3 separate regions of the Homo sapiens genome follow, and all the other regions are reported to be linked to region 1. Evidence: microRNA targets listed by miRTarBase, many of them from high-throughput screens and not tested one by one. Region 1 holds a microRNA gene; each other region holds the end of a gene's coding sequence.
The links. Region 1 holds the annotated microRNA hsa-miR-1273h-5p (CUGGGAGGUCAAGGCUGCAGU, at 4,312-4,332, opposite strand). A microRNA usually pairs through its seed, bases 2 to 8, with sites in the 3' UTR of a target mRNA and lowers its output. Matches are read on the target gene's strand: a 7mer-m8 pairs with bases 2 to 8, a 7mer-A1 pairs with bases 2 to 7 and ends in A, and an 8mer does both.

Region 1 (7,196 bases):
AATATCTGTACACATTTTATACACAGGCTTATGGAGATTCGAAGAATTACAGATGGTTTTAATTTTTTCCTTTTCCCCTTTATGCTTGATTATATTTTAAAAATTTACATAACAATCAGGTATTGTTATTATTATTTTGTAATAAGAAAAGAAGCTGTGAAAGCTATTTTAAATGAGACAGCAATTATCATGGAAGAAATTGAAAAATAGAAATAAAGAGAATGGGAGTATTTGGGTAAATTGTTAAGGTTAGCCTGATGCTACTTTAACATGCTTCATCTTAGTAAAACACTCTAAGGCAGCAGGAGGATCGCTTGAGGCTAGGAGTGTGAGACCAGCCTGGGCAACATAGCAAGACCCTGTCTCTACAAAAATTTAAAACTTCTCAGGGCATGACGCCACATGCCTGTAGTCCCAGCTACTTGGAAGGCTGAAGTTGGAGGATTACTTGAGCCCAGGAGGTTTAGACTGCAGCAAGCTATGATCGTGCCTCTGCACTTCAGCCTGGGTGACAGAGTGAGACCCTGTCTCAAAACAAAATGAAGCAAAAAAACTCTAAAACAAGTGGCTGCTTTGACGTGTATTTTGGTGCTAAGGGATAATAAGGAAGGCTAATATTTGGCTGTTGTAGATCCTCTGCCGAGCAGCATGCTGGACTCTGGCGATACATAAGAGGGTACCTGTTCTTGTCCCCGTTGAGCTTAAGATCTAGCAGAGGACACAGATGCACACACAGGCCACTGCATGGGACCATGGGACAGGTGCTGCCATTGAGCACAGAGGAAAGGAACCCAAGAAGGGCCAGGAACTCTGTCTGGAGGGAGTGACATCTCACTTGAGTGGGACCTGCAAGAGAGACATTGCTTCTTTGGAGGAGGAAAGGAAAGAGCCTGGAGAAGAAATGGAGGTAAAAAGAGGGCATGGACAAGGTAAGATGGTGGAGGAGAGGATAAGGCTCCTCCCTGCTGTCTGTTGCCTAGCCGACTTTGATAACATGAGGCTAGTGGCTCAGGGGAGCTACCTGCCCAGCCTCCATCAAGACACCAGGACACCTTCAGGTTAACAAGACCAGAAGGTCACGATGAAAAGACATCCAAGCTACATAGCCTAGGCAAAAAGACAAGCGCATCTTTCTTTTTCACATGTGCACATCCAGTGAAATGCAGGGTCGTTCCTATGCCTTCCAGTTTCCCACAGCCGAATACAGGAGGGACCCACTCCAGGGAGAATCAGATGCTCAAAGCTGCATACATATTTGATCATTTTAAAAAGTCATTTGTGGTCTGGGTTTTGGCAGAAAAAAAGAGAGATTTAAGTCTCCTTTTTCTGCTAATAATGAAGGTCCCTTACAATCAGGGATCTTTTATCTCTTATGTTTATTTAGGGAGGAAGTCAGTAGGAGAGGGGTCTTTTGTGTTTGATACTAAGTCTGTTTTGTTTTGCTCTTGCTTTTCTTAATTTTCATTAAAAAATAACATCCAGTGTTTTGATTTCCTCCAGATCTCAGTTTAAATGGCACCCTGTCAGAGAAGCTGTTCCAGACCACCTTCAAATAAAGAGGATTCTCATTCTTCCCTCCTGTTATTCTCTGTCAAGATATCCTGTTCATTTCTTTAACAGAAATAAAATCTGGTATATCTCAGTCTATAATTATTAATACATGTTCATTCTCTGTTGATTGTCTATGTTCTCATCTAGACTGTAAGCCACATGAGAGCAAAATCACATCTGTTTTATTCACCACTGCGTTTCTAGAACCCAGGGATGAAAAAAAATCAAATGGACAAATAATAGTGTATGTTAAGCACTAACTATGAGCCAGATACTGTGTTAAGTGTTTTGCAAGCTTTACCTCCTTTAATCCCCCCAAAAGCTCTATGAAGTCCTTGCTGTGCAATGAGAAAATGGGTTTAGTTTAAGTATCTGACCACGATTTGATCCTAGATTTGACAAGAGATCCAGACTCTTCTATCAGTCTCCTACATTTATCGCAGAAACAAACAAGCTATTAAAAAGCACCAAGATGCCAGGCATGGTGGTGCCATGCCTATAATACCAGCACTTTGGGAGGCCCAGGTGGAAGGATCACTTGAGATCAGGAGTTTGAGACCAGCCTGGGCAACATAGAGAGAACCTGTCTCTACAAAGAATTTTTTAAAAATTGGCCAGGCATGGTGGTGCATGCCTGTGGTCCCAGCTGTTCAAGAGGCTGAGGCACGGGGAATCCCTTGAGCCCAGGAACTGGAGGCTGCAGTGAGCTATGACTGTTCCACTTCACTTCAGCCTGGGTAACAGAGTAAGACCCTGTCTCTAAAAAAAAAAAAAAAAAAAAAAGGAATTATAATAATAATTTTTTTTTTGAGATGAAGTCTCACTTTGTCGCCCAGGCTGGTGTGCAGTGGCACGATCTCGGCTCACTGCAACCTCCACCTCCCGGGTTCAAGCGATTCTCCTGCCTCAGCCTCCCAAGTAGCTGGGACTACAGGCACCCATCACCATGCCCAGCTAATTTTTGTATTTTTAGTAGAGACGGGGTTTCACTATGTTGGCTAGGCTGGTCTCGAACTCCTGACCTCGTGATCTGCACGCCTTGGCCTCCCAAAGTGCTAGGATTACAGGCATGAGCCTCTGTGCCTGGCCATAAAAAATTTTAAAACACACAAAAGAATCCTTCTTAATCCCGCCACCCCAAATCTCTGTATTATGTTAACATCTTGGTTTGTATCCTAGATGGCTGGATGAATAGATGAATGGATGTTTTTTAGTTTTTAGACAAAGGTGGAATCATGACTCTGTTCTTTTGCTTGCTTTTTAAAAGAAACTAGATGAAATACACTCTAAACATCTTCCCATGTCAACAGAATATCATTTTTTTTCTTATCTATTCTTCACCATTCATCCTAAACCCACATTGTTGGCTTCAAGTAAACTCACCCTCAAATAGTAATTATCCCTTCTATTTGCCTATCTTTTTATAGCTTTGATTCCCACAAGGCTGTGAGATAGGCAGGAAAAGGATTATCTCTACTTAACAGATAATTTTAAGAGTTAACAGTTTGTTCAGGGTCATATAGGGTCAAGTAGGAGAGCCAAGATCCAGAGCCCATCTGTTCAATTCCAAAGCCCATGGGCTTTCCATTACATCCCATTGCCTCATACTATGTATCTGATTGTGTGGCACGGACTTAAAAGTTAAGCTAACCTGGGTACCAATCCTGGCTCCAACAATTCCCAGCTATACAACCTTCAAGCAAGTTAGCTAAGTCCCCTAAGCTCAAGTTTCTTGTAGGGTGTGGCGAGAATGACTTGATAAAATTCACATCAAATACTTAACATGGTAGCTGGTGGTTACTGCTGAGGGCTGACTGACCCATTCATGTCCAGTGAGTAAGTCTGACAGGGCTGTGCTCTGGCTTGAAAGAGGTCCTGTACGCTCTGCCAAACCCTAAATTCCTACCCATATTCCCATCCCAATTACAAGCAGAATGAGGACCTGCCAGTGCTACTTTAGACATAGAACAGAAACCTTCCCACTTAGCCTGGTGCATCACGGCAGGAAGCTACAAGACAAAGCCAGGCCCTGGGGCTCCCAGTTAGAGGAAGTGAGAAAAAGACGTGTACCCTGGGAAGAAAAAGGGATGCATTTCCGTTCCCATCCAAGCCTCACTTCCTTAGAAAGACATTTCAGGTAGATTAACACACCATCTCTGTGCTGTTTTCCATATGCCATTTGGGGGGGCATTTTGTGGTTATTTTTAAGAGACTGCACTTGTAACAAAACAAAAAGTAAGCTTTCTGTTTTCCTTTCTGGGTCATGAGCTGGTCTCAACCCTCCAAATTCAACTGTCACTGGAAGTCTTTGTGGAGTTGGAATTTCTATTGGGAGTGGCTGTGAAGGTAGGAAGAACATCAGCAAATGTGGTGATATGGTTTGAATGTGTTCTCCCAAAGTTCTTGTGCTGGACACTTAATCCCCAATGCAACAGTGTTGAGAGGTGGGAACTTTTGGAGGTGACTGGATTGATGTTATTATTGTGGGAGTGAATTTATTTAAAAAGTAAGTTACCCTCCCTCATGTGTTCTCTTGCCATGTGATGCCTTCTATCAGGTTACTATGCAGCAAGAAGGTCCTCCCCAGATACAGCCCCTGATCTTGTACTTCCCACCCTCCAGAACCATGAGCCAAATAAATTTCTTTTCATTGTAAGTTATCCACTTTTTTTTTTTTGAGACAGGGTCTCACTCTGTCACTCGAGCAGGAGGATTGCTTAAGCCTGGGAGGTCGAGTCTGCAGCAAGCTGTGACCACGACACTGCAGCCTTGACCTCCCAGGCTCAAGCAATCCTGCCTTAGTCACCCAAGTAGCTGGGACTACAGGCATGTGCCACCCCACCTGGTTGATTTTTGTAATTTTTGTGTGTGTAAAGACAGATTTTGCCATGTTCCCCAAGCTGGTCTCAAACTCCTGGGCTCAAGCTCAAGTGATCTGCCCATGTTAACCTCCCAAAGTGCTGGAATTACAGGCATGAGCCACTGCACCAGGCCCCAGTTTCAGGTATTCTTATAGCAGCACAAAACAGACTAAGACAGACACACAATGTCATAAAAATGAAGGAGAAGAGGGGCTTAAAAAGAAAGAAGGCACTCTGAACTTTTCCTACAGATAAACTCACTTATATAGGAAACTAGGAAGTTATTCAAAGGGTGATGTAGAGTTAGATAAGCAGATAAGAAACAATCTCCAAGACAGAGGGGAATAATGCAAGATACAGAAATTGTACACAGCATGCTAACATCCTTGTGTGTGATGTAGACTATTTCTGGGCCTGAACACATCTTCTCTAGAAGGTCACACAAGAACCTGGTTGCAATGGGTGTCTCTGGGAAGGAGAACCAGGAAGCCTAGCTAGGAGCCATGGGTGAGGGGAATCTTAATTTCACTTTGTAGCTTCTGATGCTGCTTGAATATTTTATTTTTTCACATTTTTTTAAAGGAGAAAGGATTAGAGCACCTAATAATATGGTGAGGTCAAGAAAGATGAGACAAGCTTATGAGAAGAGGCAGTTTTCAGGTCATTGATGACTCAATGAGAAAAATATCAATAGGATGGCGGGAGCAGAAGCCAGATTGCACCAAACTGAGGAAACAATAAATTGTCATCAAGTGGAAATAGCAGGAACTGGCAACTCTTTCAAAAGTGTGTTTGTATGCAAAGTAAGGTAGGGTAGTAATCATAGCAGTAGTAAGAGTAGTAGTAAGGAGGATTCCCAGGTTTGAGGTAGGGGATTTTTAACATGAAAAAGACATAGCAGGTTTATGCACAAAGGAGAAGGCCAGGATAGAGTCAGAAAGGACAGCTGCTGTTTTTGCCCAGCCAGCAGGCATTGTCTTTTCTTCTAGTGACAGTGGCTTTATTTTTCTTTTTTTCTTTTTTTTTTTTTTTGAGACGGAGTCTCGCTCTTTTGCCCAGGCTGGACTGCAGTGGCGCTATCTCAGCTCACTGCAAGCTCCGCCTCCTGGGTTCACGCCATTCTCCTGCCTCAGCCTCCCGAGTAGCTGGGACTACAGGTGCCCGCCACCGCGCCCAGCTAATTTTTTGTATTTTTTAGTGGAGATGGGGTTTCACCGTGTTAGCCAAGATGGTCTCGATCTCCTGACCTCATGATCCACCCGCCTCAGCCTCCCAAAGTGCTGGGATTATAGGCGTGAGCCACCACACCCGGCCATGACAGTGGCTTTTTTTTCTTAAAGGAGATATTCCTTCTCTTCTTTCAAAATGTCTGATTTAGATAGGACATTCCTTCTCTTTTTTCAAAATGTCTGGATTAGATCCAGCTCTCTGGCTAAGAGGGGCTGGTGACCCAGGCCCGGTCAATCAGCACATTCCATCCCCCTGGTGCAGTGAGCAATTCCCTTAGAGATGGGCATATGACCCAATAATCTTCCAAAAAGATTGAGTCCTAGGCTGCTGGGATTTTATAAAAAGGAAGCCCTTTTCTTTGGTAGAAGTTGCAGAGATAATGGGACATAAATTGGGAGTTGCTATGTGCCCAAGAAAGCCTTCTGAGAATGAAGAATGAAGTCAACACAGTGGGGAAAGTAATCCTAAGGGATATAGATAAATGTTTCCCTGCTGGCATTGTTTGGGACCAGATGTAGATGATCCATCTACATCTGAATACTAACTATCATTATTTTTTGCTTAAAAGTCAGTTTAAATCAGATTCCTATTTGAAACCATAGGAGTTTTGTTGATACAGAGAGAAGCTGTAGACAGACTAAACAGGGGAGATAAGCATGAAGGATCAAGAGGCTGGAGTCCAGAGCAGGAGTGAGGGTAAGTCTCACATGAGTTGGGGGAGGGAAAACATATTTGCTAAGACAGAGATGGAAGCTGGGCAAGGAGGTCAAGATGACTATGGAGGTGCCGGTAGGTGGTAAGAAGCTGACGGCTACCAACCAGTGGCACCCATGGGCCTCAATCTTCCTCACGATTTAGGGCAGGGATCCCCAATCCCTGGGCCATGGACCAGTATCAAAATAACAATAATAATAATAAATAATAATATAATAGTACATGACTCAAAGTCATGTATCTGGTAGGTTCTATGGTTGACTTGCCCCGCCAAAGTTCATGTGTTAGAAACTGAATCTCCAATGCAACAGTGTTGAGAGGTGGCACCTCATGAGAACTTAACAACATTATCTTGGTAGTGGGATCCTAATAAAAGGGATGAGTTTGGCTCCGTATCTTTCCCCTGCATGTGCACACACATGTATGCATATGCATATATATGCACACACATGCACGCATACTCTCTCTTGCCCTTCACCTTCTGCCATGGGATGACACAGCAAGAAGTCTCTCACCAGATGCAAGCCCCTCACCCTTGGACTTCCCAGCCTCCAGAACTGTAAGAAATAAATTTCTTTTCTTTATAAATTATCTAGTCTGTGGTATTCAGTCATAGCAACACAACATGGACTAAGACAGAAACTGATTTAGGAACTTCACCTGGCTCAGGAACCTGACAATTCCAACCATCTAAAGGGAGCCTGGTTTGATCTGAAGTTTAAATGGGTTCTCCATGGGTGTGTAGATAGGTGGAGAGAGATAAACAGACTCCAAGCTGTGTGTCCTAAATGGCTCTTGGCTATTTGTTTGTCAGTATATAAATGTAGGTTGATATTTTTA
Region 2 (7,196 bases), not on the chromosome of region 1:
GGGAGGCCAAGGTGGGCGGATCACTTGAGGTCAGGAGTTCGAGACCAGCCTGGCCAACATGGTGAAACCCCGTCTCTACTAAAAATACAAAAATTAGCCAGGTGTGGTGGTGCACGCCTGTAGTCCCAGCTACTCGGGAGGCTGAGGCATGAGAAACGTATGAACCCAGGAGGTGGAGGCTGCAGCGAGCTGAGATTGAGCCACTGCACTCCAGCCTGGGTGGCAGAGTGAGACTCTGTCTCAGAAAAAAAAAAAAAAAAAAAAAGATGAGGTTTTGCTATGTTACCCAGGCCAGTGTTGAACGCCTGGGCCCAAGCCTCAGCCTCCCAAAGTGCTGGAATTACAGGAATCAACCAACTCGCCTGACACTGGATTTGCTTTTTTTATTTTTTCGAAACAGTCTTGCTCTGTCTCCCAGGCTAGAGTGCAGTGGTGCAATCTCAGCTCCCTGTAACCTCCACCTCCTGAGTTCAAATGATTCTCCTGCCTCAGCCTCCCGAGTAGCTGGCGTTACAGGCGCCTGCCACCACGCCCAGCTAATTTTTATACTTTTAGTAGAGATGAGGGTTCACCATGTTGGCCAGGCTGGTCTCGAACCCCTGACCTCAAGTGATCCACCAGCCTCAGCCTCCCAAAGTGCTGGGATTACAGGCATGAGCCACTGCACCCAGCCAGGAGTTGCTTTTTGATTATAGAGGGTATCAGGACACGTCAGGGTGGAAACTTTCCCAAGGCAAAGCCTCCACAATCTAGCATCGAATTGTAAATCAGGACACCATTGGAGCCAAAAAGTAACTCAAAGTAACCACGCTCATAAGAGATTGATGCAACTAATGCAATTATTTGCATAGCAATTTATTAATTTATAATCAGGATAGTGTTTCAAGGCCATAAAATATCAATGTATCCCATCCAGAAAAGCCCCTTCCCTGTCCTGGAGGACAAAGAAATCATTAGCAAGTAGCTTGGTAGACATGGAGTCCGTCTTGAGGACCATTTCCCTGGGCCACGGTAAAGTCTGGCGAAGCACCACTGTGCTAAGCAGACTCCTACCAAATGGAGCATCTGGCAATCTCTGCTTTTTTTTTTTTTAACCTCTGCATTTTTGAACGTCCTTTTTTTAGGGTCTTAATTGACCATTCTTCTTTGATTCACATCATCTTTATGTTGCCCACACTCCAATTCTCTGCCTACTTACTCAGTTGTAATCACAATCCAGTCCTGCCTTCCTCAAGTTTCACTGGCTCACCATGGTAGCAATTCGTGTGTGGTCCCAAATTCTTCCAAGCGTCCACTACATCCTGCCCCACCTGGGAGCTGACCTCACTCTTCCTGTATGGGCTTGACTAGTTAATCCACAGAAACAGCCATGTTTCCCTAATGGTCAAGTTCTTGGGCAGCCTTCATAGACACTATCTATCTATCTATCTGTCTATTTATTTATTTATTTATTTTTTAAGACGGAGTCTTGCTCTGTCACCCAGGCTGGAGTGCAGTGGCACGATCTTGGCTCACTGCAAGCTCCGCCTCCCGGGTTCATGCCATTCTCCTGCCTCAGCCTCCTGAGTAGCTGGGACTACAGGCGCCCGCCACCACGCCCGGCTAATTTTTTTTATTTTTAGTAGAGATGGGATTTCACCTGCCTCGGTCCCCCAAAGTGCTGGGATTACAGGCGTGAGCCACCACGCCCGGCCTCATAGACACTATCAAGTATTACCAAAAGGGACACTCACTCAAACCATCATGAATGTATACCAGTGGCCAAAGAAAAGGTGTATGACTTAGAATCAATTCATATCAACCTCAACAGATATTTAAGGAATAGATTCCTCACATGAGTTTGTCATATTTCTTTTTCTTTAAAAACTCAAGGCAGACAACATTTTTGTTAATCAAGGCATTCAGTTAAGATGGCAAATTGAGTTTTGCAGATATGACTTTTTTTTTTAATTAAAAATTTTTTTTTGGCCGGGTGTGTTGGCTCACGCATATAATCCCAGTAGTTTGGGAGCCCAAGGTGGGCGGATCACCTGAGGTCAGGAGTTTGAGACCAGCCTGGCCAATATGGTGAAATCCTGTCTCTACTAAAAACACAAAAATTAGCCGAGTGTGGTGGTGGGTACCTGTAATCCCAGCTACTAGGGAGGCTGAGGCAGGAGAATCACTTGAGTCCAGGAGGTGGAGGTTGCAGTGAGCCAAGATTGTGCCACTGCATTCCAGCCTGGGCAGCAAGAATGAAACTGTCTCAAAAAAAAAAAAAAAAAAAGAAGAAAAGAAAGAAAAAAGAAAATTTTTTTTTTTTGTAGAGAGGAGGTCTCAATATGTTGCCCAGACTGGTCTTGAACTCCTGAGCTCAACCACTCCTCCTACCTCGGCCTCCCAAAGTGCTGGGATTACAGGCGTGAGCCACCATGCCCAGCCAGCAAACATGACTTCTAGAAGTACAGACTCTGACAAAATTCTGCATTGTTTCTCTAGCTCACTATCTATACCTTTGCCTCTTGGGTTTTTATCTAATTACATTTAAATGCTCTGCTCTTATTTTCTGCTTGTGTTTAGCTCCTTCCAACTGTGTTTTCCTCAGTCTCGATGTATTTTCATCCTTTGCGCCTGTTTTTATGACTCTATGATGGAGACTTCTCACAATCCCTCTCATTTTTTTTTCACACCTGTATTTTTCCTCCTCTTTTCATTTCTGGGTTCCTGCCTCTTCTTTGTTCTTTGGATATTCAATTTTTTTTTTTGAGACGGAGTCTCACTCTGTCACCCCTGCTGGACTGCAGTGGCACTATCTCGGCTCATTATAACAACCTCGGCCTCCCAGGTTCAAACGATTCTCCTGCCTCAGCCTCCTCAGTAGCCGGGATTACGGGCGCCTGCCACCACGCCCGGCCAATTTTTTGTATTTTTAGTAGAGATGGTGTTTCACCATGTTAGCCAGGATGGTCATCTCCTGACCTCGTGATCCGCCTGCCTCGGCCTCCCAAAATGCTGGGATTACAGGCGTGACCCACCATGCCCAGCCTGGATATTTAAATTGTTCTGTGCTCTCCTCCTTTTTTTTCTCTCTGTGATTCTCTTTGTCAGCTCCTTTGCCTATATTTGCATCTCAGTTGACACCCCTGATTCTGACTTGTCCTTATCTTCCTACCAGTCTCTGCCGACCGGTTACTGTCAGCCTGTCTTTAGGGTTTGCGCTGCAGCTGTTTGTCCTTTGTCTTTCTGCCTGCCTCCAAGTCCCCATATCTCCTGGTCTCTTCTGTCAGTGAATCTTCCCACTGACTGCCTCCTCCGCCTTCTGCTTCTCAGCTCCCCGGACTCGTCCCCGCTCTTCTCTGTTCCCACCTCTCCTCTTGCTCTTCTGATCTCTCTATCTGCCAGTATTTCCTCCATCACTCCTGAGCCTGGGTGTTTCTCCTTGTCACTCACTCTATTTCACTGTCTAGACTCTCTGTGCCTTTCAGCCTTGGGGTCTCTTCTTGTCGGCCTTCATTTCTATTTTTCTGGTCCTTTTTGTTTATAACCCTTTTATCAGTTCTGTGACTTTGGTGTCTCTCAGGATCTATGACAGCCTTTCTCCATATTTCTGCTAGGGCCTGTCTCTTTTGCCCTCCATCCTTCTTTGCCTCTGTCACCTCTATGTGAATAATCCTTCTCTCTTTCTATCTATCACTCAATCTATGTATGTCTGTCTCTGTCATTCTTCGTATCTTTCTGTACCTCCGCTTCTTAGCAAGGTTTTTGTTTTGTTTTGTTTTTTTTTGAAGACAATCTTCCTGTCTCTTGCTTTTGCTCATGTAGCTTTTCTGTGGATGGCTAAGGGTTGCCTCTCTCAGTCCATTGTTTAGTGGAACAGCAGACTTAATCTGCTGGGCACTTCCCGTCACCTCGATGTTCTGGGAAGGAAGGGGTCTTGTTCAACAGAAAAAAACGCAGCAGAAGCAGCAGGGAGGAAGAAGACTTTATGAATGTATCTCAGAAAAGTCCCAGCTCTTCCTTTTTTTTTTTTCTTTAGAGACAAGAGTCTCACTCTGTTTGCCCAGGCTGGAGTGCAGTGGCACGACCTCGGCTCACTGCAACCTCTGCCTCCTGGGTTCAAGCGATTCTCCTGCCTCAGCCTCCTGAGTAGCTGGGATTACAGGCATGCACCACCATGCCCGGCTAATTTTGTATTTTTAGTAGAGACAGGGTTTCACCATGTTGACCAGGCTGGTCTTGAACTCCTGACCTCAGGTGATCCTCCCGCCTCGGCCTCCCAAAGTGCTGGGATTACAGGCGTGAGCTGCTGCGCCCAGCCAGAGGGCCAGCTATTCCTTTATCCTCCTGCAGCCTTCTCTCACACAGTCTACCTCTGCCCTTGTTCTTCCATGAAAGCCTGGGCCTGGGAAAACTCTGTACTGGGCACCTTTCCTTCTGTAATTCTAGACTTCAGTGCCGTCCTAAGAAGACAAACCAGCCCTGTGTTCATTCCTCTAAGAATCCGAATTGTCTTTGAAAAGTCAAAAGGGGTCGGGTACGGTGGCTCACGTCTGTAATCCCAGCACTTTGGGAGGCTGAGGTGGGTGGATCACTTGAGTGCAAAAGTTTGAGACCAGCCTGGGCAACATGGCAAAACCTGGTCTCTACAAAAAAATACAAAAATTAGCCTGGTGCAGTGGCGTGCACCTGTAGTCCCAGCTACTTGGGAGGCTGAGGTGGGAGGCAGGAGAATTGCTTGAGCCTGGGAGGCAGAGATTGCAGTGAGCCAAGATCAAGCCACTGCACTCCATCCTGGGCAACAGAGCAAGAACTTGTCTCAAAAAAAAAAAAAAAAAAAGAAAAGAAAAAAGAAAAGTCAAAAGATACTAAAAATAAAAATAAAAATAAAAGGCTAGACACAGCAGGACCAGGGTTAAGGAGAAAAACAGGAGTGTGCGCCTGTTCTCACGTCTGTAATCCCAGCACTCTGGGAGGCCGAGGCAGGTGGATTACTTGAGGTCAGGAGTTCGAGACCAGCCTGGGCAACATGGTGAAACCTCCTCTCCACCAAAAAATACAAAAATTAGCTGGGCTTGGTGGTGCATGCCTGAAGTCACAGCTACTCGGGAGGCTAAGGCAGGACAATCACTTGAACCCAGGAGGCTGAGGTTGCAGTGAGCCGAAATCGTGCCACTACACTCCAGCCTGGGTGACAGAGTAAGATTCCGTCTCATAAAAAAAAAGAAAAAGAAAAAGAAAAACAGGAGTGTGGCTTTGAGAACCAGAAACATCAGCAGCAATTGCTGTGGCCCAGGTTCTGTCTCTTGGCAACTATCACGTCCATCTCTGCTGCTACAGATAGCACCTCCTCTACCTTCCTCCCACTGCCAGAATTTGGTTATAGGTGAGATCTCTTTTCTCTCTGTCCCCACCCGCCCCATACCAGATCTCTCTGATCCTAGTGGGACTTCACCTTCCCCCATCTGTCCCTGGGTTAAAGCAAAGAGCTTCTGTCTCCACTGGCAGTTTCTTCCAGCTGCATGCCTCCTGCCACCCTTTACTGATAGCTCTAGCTGTACCTCTTGAGTTTATTTGCTGGAAAGGATGCTCATCTGATGACGGATTTCAGTGAACAGAAACCCAGGTTCCCACCCATCCAACATCAGCATTTCTTCTTAGATCCGAGGAAGGGGAAGGGATGTGAGTTAGCTGGAAGAGAAACTGAGATTCTGATGAGCAAGTCTGGCCCTCACCCTGATGGGGGACTGTGCATGGAAGACCCTCATCTCCTTGTCCTGGCCCCACCTCCCCCAGCGAGGGGCCCATGGCTTCTCTCTAGTCTTTCAGGCTGAGAGTCGAACTGTTGCTGGTGACAGGTCCATTGTCACGACGTGTCCTGGTCCCCCTGGTTTTCTCATGGCCAGGGCTGGGTGGATGGGGTCGAGACTGTAGGACATCATTGACCAGAATACGGATCCCCAATATGATGCTCATGATGCCCACAGTGACCAGCCCAATTCCACCCAGGGTGACCAGAGCAAGAGGAACCTGGTGGTGCTGCCGGAACAGCCACAGACTCATCCACCCCAGCGGGACCAGGCGGAAGAGGGCCAAGGTGGCCAAGGAGGCCCAGCTGGTCACGCTGAAGGCCAGGGATGGGGCCTGGCGAGAAAGCAACAGCAGCTTCCGCAGGTGCAAGCAGGCAGAGTTCAGTTCCAGGAGCAGAGACACCATGGAGAAGCCCACGTAGTGGCCAGACAGAACAGCGGTGCTGAGGCAGCTCACCACCTGGGAGCCAGGGTCACAGGTCAGAGGAACCCCATGACCTGCCAGCCATCATGTCCCAATAACCCAGGCCTGAAGAAAGAGGCTTCCACGCAGTCTGTGGGGCTCCCCAAACACCTGACCTTTATGCTTTTACCTTTATCCTGGGGCCCTGAGCAGCCTTGAAACAACCCTTCCATAGATGGAACCAGGCTTGGCCCAGGGAGGGGCTGTCTCACCCCCTAATACCCCCTTAACCTCCCATTCCTGGGCTTGCTTGCTTTTTTTTTTTTTTTTTTTTTTTTTCGAGACAGACTCTCACTCTGCCACCAGGCTGGAGTGCAGTGGTGTGATCTTGGCTCACTGCAACCTCTGCCTCCTGGGTTCAAGCAATTCTCCTGCCTCAGCTTCCAGAGTAGCTGGGACTACCGGTGCGCGCCACCACACCCAGGTAATTTTTGTATTTTTAGTAGAGACGGGGTTTCACTGTTAGTCAGGATGGTCTCGATCTCCTGACCTCGTGATCCACCCGCCTCGGCCTCCCAGTGTGCTGGGATTATAGGCATAAGCCACCGTGCCTGGCCTAGGGCTTTCATGCCCCATACCCACACCCTATACCAGGACACCCCCTTCTCAGAAAAGCTCCATATTCCACATTTCTGTGATCAGCTGGACACCTGTGGGGGCACCCAAACTCCTTAGGCTCACATGGTGGGTGCCCTGGCATGGTGGGTGCCCTTGTATGGTGAGTGCCCTGGCATGGTAGGTGCCCTGGCCTGGTGGGTATCTGGACTCCCCAGCTGTGGCCAGCAGCCACCTCCTCCCCCTAACTCAGCCTAAGACTGGGAGCCAAGCACCAGCTGGGGGCAGAGACTGTGGGAAATTATAGGACAGCAAAATGAAGAGAGGGCCGGGGGCGGTGGCTCATGCTTGTAATCCCAGCACTTTGGAAGGCTGAAGTGGGCGGATCACCT
Region 3 (7,196 bases), not on the chromosome of region 1:
TAGCTATTATTCACACTAGTCACTCCTAAATTTTTTTATTTAGTGACAGTGTTTAAATTGAGCTAAGAATGTCTAACAGTATCTGAGTAGCTAAAGATTTGGAAAGTCTTGTCTTCTGCCATCCAACATTTGGTAAAGACATGGTTATTTTAGCCAGCATCCTTTTTTTTTTTTTTTTTTTTTTTGTATTGTTTTGTTGGAGAGAGTTTCACTCTTGTCGCCCAGGCTGGAGTGCAATGGCTCACTGCAACCTCCAACTCCCAGGTTCAAACAGTTCTCCTGCCTCAGCTTCCCAAGTAACTGGGATTACAGGCATGTACCACCACGCCCAGCTAATTTTTGTATTATTAGTAGAGACGGGGTTTCACCATGTTGGACAGGCTGGTCTCAAACTCCTGACGTCAGGTGATCCGCCCACTTTAGCCTCCCAAAGTGCTGGGATTAAAGGCATGAGCCACTGTGCCTGGCCTCTTTTTCTGAATATAAGTGAATTTTAAAAATCTGTCACCTGTGAAAGTAGACTAAATTCCAAGTCGTCAAAGTTCTGAATAAGCTGCCTACCTGGACTGCTGATCTGTAGTTCATCTAGCTCAAGGGAAAGCTAAGAAACAAAACAATCCTGTCTTTTAAAAAGGTTTGGGAAAAGCAGGGTATAGACGGGGCCACAGAGCACCCTTAAATGTTGAACTATAATGACACCTAAGTCATCCCTGTATTTGGCAAGTTTCCATGAAAGGGTGGTTCAAAATGACTCTTAATTATGTTTTTGGGTTTTTTCTAAAAGGCCATCTCAGAATTTTTTTTTTTTTTTTTTTTAGTTTGAAAGCAGCCTGTCCAACATGGTGAAACCTCATCTCTACTAAAAACACACAAAAAATTAACCAGGCATGGAGGTGCACACCTGTAATCCCAGCTACTCGGGAGGCTGAAGCAGGAGAATCGCTTGAACCCGGGAGGAGGAGGCTGCAGTGAGCCAAGGTTGTGCCACTGCACTCCAGCCTGGGCGACAGAGCAGACTGTCTCAAAAAAACAAAACAAAAACCTTTATGAATGCTCTTCAATGGCTGCCAGGTTTGCTTTTTTTTGGCATTTTGTTGTTAGGTTAGGAGGCTATCAAGAAATATGCAGAAAGCTAAATAGATCCCTTCCCTTCTCCTGTTCTCAAACTTACACTATTTCTAATAACCAAGTGAGTTAAGTGGGTTTTAAAATAGATTACTCCTCACAATGTTTCTTTCCTTCCACTTACCTGGCATGTGTAATCCCAAAGAATCTTTTAAATTTTGTGGTGAAAAATCCCATTTCTGTTCATTTGGATTTCCATTCATTATTTACTAGGCATTTAACTATGCTCTATGCTGGGGAATCCGATGGTCAGTAAGACATGCCTTGGGAGCTGTCTGGTAGGAAAGATGGACAAGTCACCAGGAAGTGACAGTAGACATTGGTAAATGCCATAGGAATATCCCAGGAATGGAGATACCAGCATCATCAACATGGGGCACAGAACCCTGGACCTGGGCCGGCTACATTAAGACTCTCTCAATGAGATGGTAAAATCAGGGACTATTTTGTTCATCCAGCTATCTGGGGTGGTAAGCACAGTTGCCCAAGGCATAGGGAGCCCCGCAGGAGGACAGCTGAAGAGGAAGGCACATTTGGGGGAAGGATGGCACATGAGGTGAGATCGGAGTTAATCAGGCCAGATTATGAGGGCCTCGGATGCCATACGAGGGACATGATGTTTCAGATCAATTCCTCAGGCAGCTGTGTGGATTGGCGATGGGACCTGCAATAACTCTGGGTTACCTAAAATAGTGGCAGTGAGGCTGGAAAGAAGTGGGACAGGAGGAAGTCATCAGCTACAGGTGGCTGCTGAAAGCAGAGAGGGAGAAATCACCCAGGAAGAATGGAGACACCAGGGGAAGCTTCTAGATAAAACAGCATCTCTTGGCTGAGCTAAAAGAGGAGCAAATTTGTCTTTTCTCTTTATGAGACAGGGTCTCACTCTGTTGCCCAGGCTAGAGTATAGCAGTGCCATCACGCCTCACTGCAGCCTCGAAGTCCTGGGCCCAAGCGATCCTCCCACCTCAGCCTCGTGAGTAGCTATGACTACAGGTGTGCTCTACATCCAGCCAATTTTTTCACATTTTTGTTGAGACGGGGTCTTCTGACCAGGCAGGGTGGCTCACGCCTGTAATCCCAACACTTTAAAAGGCCGAGGAGGGTGGATTACTTGAGGCCAGGAGTTCGAGACCAGCCTGGCCAACATGGCGAAACCCGTCTCTATGAAAAATGCAAAAATTAGCTGGGTGTGGTGGCGCATGCCTGTAACCACAGCTGCTTGGGAGGCTGAGGCATGAGAATTGCTTGAACCTGAGAGGCATTCCAGCCTGGGCAATAGAGACTAACAAAACAGACAAGTTCTGGAACTCCTAGCCTCAGGTGATCCTCCCACCCCTTGGCCTACCCAAAGTGCTGGGATTACAGGTGAGCATGGCACCTGGCTTAAGGAGTTCTGGCAGAGGCCCTACTCCCTGCCCTGCATCCTGTCTCCCATGGCCTCTGGCTCTAGCCCAAGCTTGTCCAACCTGTGGTCCAGGGCAGCTTTGAATGTGGCCCAACACAAACTTATAAGCTTTCTTAAAACACCATGATTTTTTTTTTTTTTTTTTTTTAGCTCATCAGCTATTGTTAGTGTTAGTGTATTTTATGTGTGGCTGAAGACAATTTTCTTCTTCCAGTGTGGCCCAGGGAAACCAAAAGATTGGACACACCTGCTCTAGCCAACGTTCATTCCAGCCCTCCTGTGTCAATCTGCTCTTCAACTCAGCCTTTCAACACACTCAGGTCCTGCTTATCTGGGCAGTTTGTGGCAGGAGCTGTGGAGGCTAGGGCATACCCCCTTCCACCCTCTCCAAAGCATTACTTTTACTATTAATATAATAACTTTGGAGGTGGCAAAGAGAAATTTATGTTAGAGCAAAACTACAAAAACTCTCATAGATCTGATACTGATGACTTGTACACTTCAGATCATTATCAGTGATGTAGAATACAACGTATTCTCAGCTAGCACGTTCTGCTACCAATTAGCTGCTTTTTACAGTGCTAACGTACACATTCTGTCACCTTAACACAGCTGGTTTCTCTAACAAGCCTTCATGTTTCGCACGTCAGCACCACCACCACTGGGCTCCTCTCACGAACCTGTTGTAACGGGCCTCCCAGGTGACTGCTATCTCCTGACGCTGGGCCCACCACCACCTGGAAGCCCTCAGGCGCTGACACTACCACAGGGATTTTCTTCACCTGGAATCTGAAGCAAATGTGCATTCTTCTGGCAGGGAAGCCTGCGGCCCTAGACATCCTCAAAGACGTTAACAACAAAAAACCCACAGCTTTAGACTCAATAAATTCAGCAGAGTTCACTTCTCCAAACATACGCCAAGCCAAAGTTTTCTCCAAGCCCTTTAATATTCACTTAAACAGTTGAGGCACAAGCAATAATAAAACTGCATTTTTTACGTTACAAAAAGATTTTGTATGTTATCTGCATGATATACCAATTTTCTCAATCTCTTCTGCAATAACATCTCATTAACACTCTGGTCCACATGTTGATTTAATAAAGTCAGAATGGCAGGTGGGAGGATGGTAAAATAAACTTACCAAGGGGCAAAAGGAACCAAACATTTACTGAGTGCCGACTATGCAAGCTCTACTAGGTTTTACACACTTTACATAAACGTGAACCTAAGTTCTAGTTATCAGTTAACAGGCCAGCATTGCTACAGCCAGTAAGTCTATGTTTTCAATGTTCTTTCGCTTTTAAGTACAAATTGTGGAACAAAACTATATCTTTGCCCAAAGAAGCACATCAACTGTTGCACTAATACATTATTTTCCATTTCCAAAGTTTTTTAGTAAGTGTGCAACATTAGCACATGGAAACGCTCAAGCTGTGTATTAGTTCACTGAGATCTGGGGTTTTTTTGTTCTCACCTGCTGAGCACCATTTGGCCAGCATCACTACAACAAGCTGATTACATCACCTTGTAAAACTTAAGATGGGGATGAATAGTGTTTGGCAATTACATTTCTGGGAGAAAAAACTGCTGATTTTTTCTTTAACTCGACACAGCTAGCTTTAAAAAGTGGTACCTCATTTTAAAGCACCAAAGTTGTCATTTAAATAAGAAAACGTACTTGGGTTAATGAACTGTAAAATGAAGATACCAACGCCTTTTCAAGCATTACAGCAAAGCCAGTATGTTCAGAGCCAAGTGACACCCAGCTCATACTGCACTCCAGTTCCCAAGGAAACGGCGTTTCTACCCTCCCCAAACTTAAGCTGCCCCTCACTCCTCCAGCCAGCCCTCCTTTTTCTGAGCCCATTCTTTCCTTGCTGAGCTATCTGCCCCTTGCTCCCTTTCCCACCCCTGTTCTCCCTCTAACTGCCCCTCTATACATGTCTGGGCTGCTGCCTAAGACTTCTTAGCTGCCTGGTTAGTCACTGACCAATCACCACTACACTGCTTTGGATTTGGGATCCCACTAGTAAAACTAACTGGCATGTCTGTACTGGTCATCCCCCCAAAAAAGCCCTCCTGTGTAACAAAAAAGCACTGTTTAAGGGTTCAGGATCACAAACCCTCAAGATACCCGAGAAAAGTCCTCAAATGTGAGTCGCCTAGTCTAACAGTAGAGGTAAGTTCAAAGATGAAATGTGATTTGTTCAAGGCTGTGCGGCTAATCAGAGGCAGAAACTAGACCTATTTCTCCTTCCACTGCACCACAAAAAAACCGAGATTGATAATGATTAAGAAGAGTTTGTAAGTCAATCAAAATAAAATGCCTAGTACATAGGAAAAGTCTTTGGGATTTCTCCAGACTTTTAGACAGAACAAAGGCAATCTTTACAATGAGAAATGCTCCTCAGTTCAACAGATGCCACCAAGTACCAAGGATCCTTACTCAGTTCTGAAACTGTGACTACGGAGAATATGTCACTATTTGAGAATAAGAGGTCCCACCTGCTCCACTCTTTTCAAGTTTTCAGTCACAAGGTTGCAACTTACTCTCATCGTTTCACAAGATAATCAAGTTGAAGCAGGATTAAGGAGGTACACTGAAGATAAAGCAAAAGGCAACAAGCATTTTTACAAGCAGATCATCCCAGTTACCTTAAAAGTTTCGGATTAATTTACAGAGTAGTGACAGAACCATATAATTTCAGTGAAAATCAAGATAGTTATACCATTAAAAAAAACATCAATTCAGAAATACTAAGTCAGGCAAGCATGCAAAATTCAGAATATAAAAAAATGCAGGGCCTGGTTGCCCACATACATTCCTCAGGTTAAGGTGGATTTAAAGATGCCCAACAGAACCCAATGAATCAGAAGCTAAAAGGGACACTTCAGTGATCAGCAGACGCATTCTCTCACGTAACAAATGGAGGGAAAGTGAGCACACATTAACTAGCGAAGCTCACAAGGCTAGATTAGGGGTGTACAGAAATCTAATTCCTGGTGCTATTTGCAACTACATATATTTAAAATACAAGGAGATAAATACCCAGAACACATTAAGCCTACTGATTTAAACAGAACATTTCAAGACTGCTACACAGAAAGGGAAGGAAGCTGTTAACCCAGCACAGCAGCACACCTCACATATTTACGTCTCAGAGATTAAATGGAAAGAAAGGATCAATCAAAACCTTTAATGCTCAGTTTTCACAAACACAGTCAAGTCTATCAAATTTCCAGATTTACAGCAAAATGTGCCCTCTAAAAAAGTGTACATTCTTCAGTTTCTCCTATACTTTTTTTTTTTTGCCTATCTTTCAAAACTGAGCACTGGGTATTTTTAACATAAGCCATGTCATATGTACAGTTTAACTATGTAACTATGTTTCAGGAATAAACAAAATCCATGATATTTTAGTAACTCATAGTGTATTTATAGAATGAAAAGTTCTCTATCAAAATACACTTTTCACTGGGAAAAATAAATAAAATAGACAAATGGATCTACACAAAGTAAACATTAACTTTGGTAGATTTCAGTGTAGTTCATAACAAGCATATTTGCCCTTATTCCCCCAGAGCTGCTCAACTACCAAGAATTTTTAAAATATTTTTAACTGAGATTTTATTATGTTGACATTTGTTTCTCATTCCACATCATCTTCAGCCAAGCTCTGAGCACTTACAATTCTCTGAAAGAAAAAAAAAATAATTTTTTAAAGTGTCATAAGCATTTAATTAGGATTCTAACTTCAAAATAAAATGCTCTTTGTATTCAAAGAATTGAATCTTAGTAAAGTTCACCCATTCTGACATTTAATTCAAAATGTAACACTTTACACACAGTCGGCATCCAAGAAAACAATGATCATACTACTGACAATCCCATTTCAAAAGTCAAGTTAACAAAGGAGGCAGATCATTACATTATATATGTTTTTAATTCAGATGGGGTCTCTGTAACCCAGGCTGGAGTGCAGTAGCACAATCTCAGCTCACTGCAACCTCTGACTCCTGGGCTCAAGCGATCCTCCCCCACCTCAGCCTCCTGAGTAGCTGGAACCACAGACTCATGCCACCATGCCCGGCTAATTTTTTTTTTATTTTTGGTGCAGACAGGGTTTTACCATGTTGCCCAGGCTGGCCTTGAACTCCTGAGCTCAAATGAGTGCTAGGATTATAGGGCATGAGACACTGTGTACAGCCATCATTACATAATATTACATCAGTCAATTATGTAACTAAAACCAAAAAGATTTTAAGATCTCTTTTCACTCCCAGGCAAACCAAGAACACTGATAATTGAGTGAAGGAGGTCATTTTTAAGGAATTAGGCTTCATAGTGAATTCACAAATATTCCAAAAGACATCACCCTCAGGCCAATTTTCCAAAAGTACTATACTATGCTGCCTTTCAAATAGCGTAATATTAAACCGATGATTCCAGTATGAATCCTCTAGAACTAGAACCACATTAGTCTAAATAAAAACAATTTAGACAAAGTCCTTGGTTGTCCAACTTGTTCCCTCAAGTCGTTGGGATCTTTACTTTCTTTCCAGTCCTTTTCTAATTCAGTTGAGTAAAAATCAGTTTGAAAAATTAACCAGTCAGTTACTAACTATAAAGTTCTGTAAATACTTCCTATCATCATTCACTGTTTT

Region 2: the mRNA of TLCD2 is a reported target of hsa-miR-1273h-5p. Seed matches in the 3' UTR shown: 7mer-m8 at 4,947-4,953, 7mer-m8 at 4,722-4,728, 7mer-m8 at 4,696-4,702, 8mer at 4,682-4,689, 8mer at 4,546-4,553 and 7mer-A1 at 2,005-2,011.
Region 3: the mRNA of TOMM20 is a reported target of hsa-miR-1273h-5p. Seed matches in the 3' UTR shown: 7mer-m8 at 3,648-3,654.

The regions. Positions count from the first base shown.
Region 1 is chr16:24,200,284-24,207,479 of GRCh38, reverse strand. MIR1273H (microRNA 1273h) reads right to left here and starts at 4,364; the gene lies at 4,249-4,364. All of the region lies in intron 16 of PRKCB (protein kinase C beta), which reads right to left.
Region 2 is chr17:1,701,977-1,709,172 of GRCh38, forward strand. TLCD2 (TLC domain containing 2) reads right to left here. Exons shown (of 4, transcript NM_001164407.2): 4 at 840-6,246. The coding sequence ends at 5,794. Among named protein-coding and RNA genes, the nearest start is that of TLCD2, 4.8 kb to the right of the region's middle.
Region 3 is chr1:235,105,883-235,113,078 of GRCh38, forward strand. TOMM20 (translocase of outer mitochondrial membrane 20) reads right to left here. Exons shown (of 5, transcript NM_014765.3): 5 at 3,459-6,226. The coding sequence ends at 6,182. Among named protein-coding and RNA genes, the nearest start is that of SNORA14B, 18 kb to the right of the region's middle.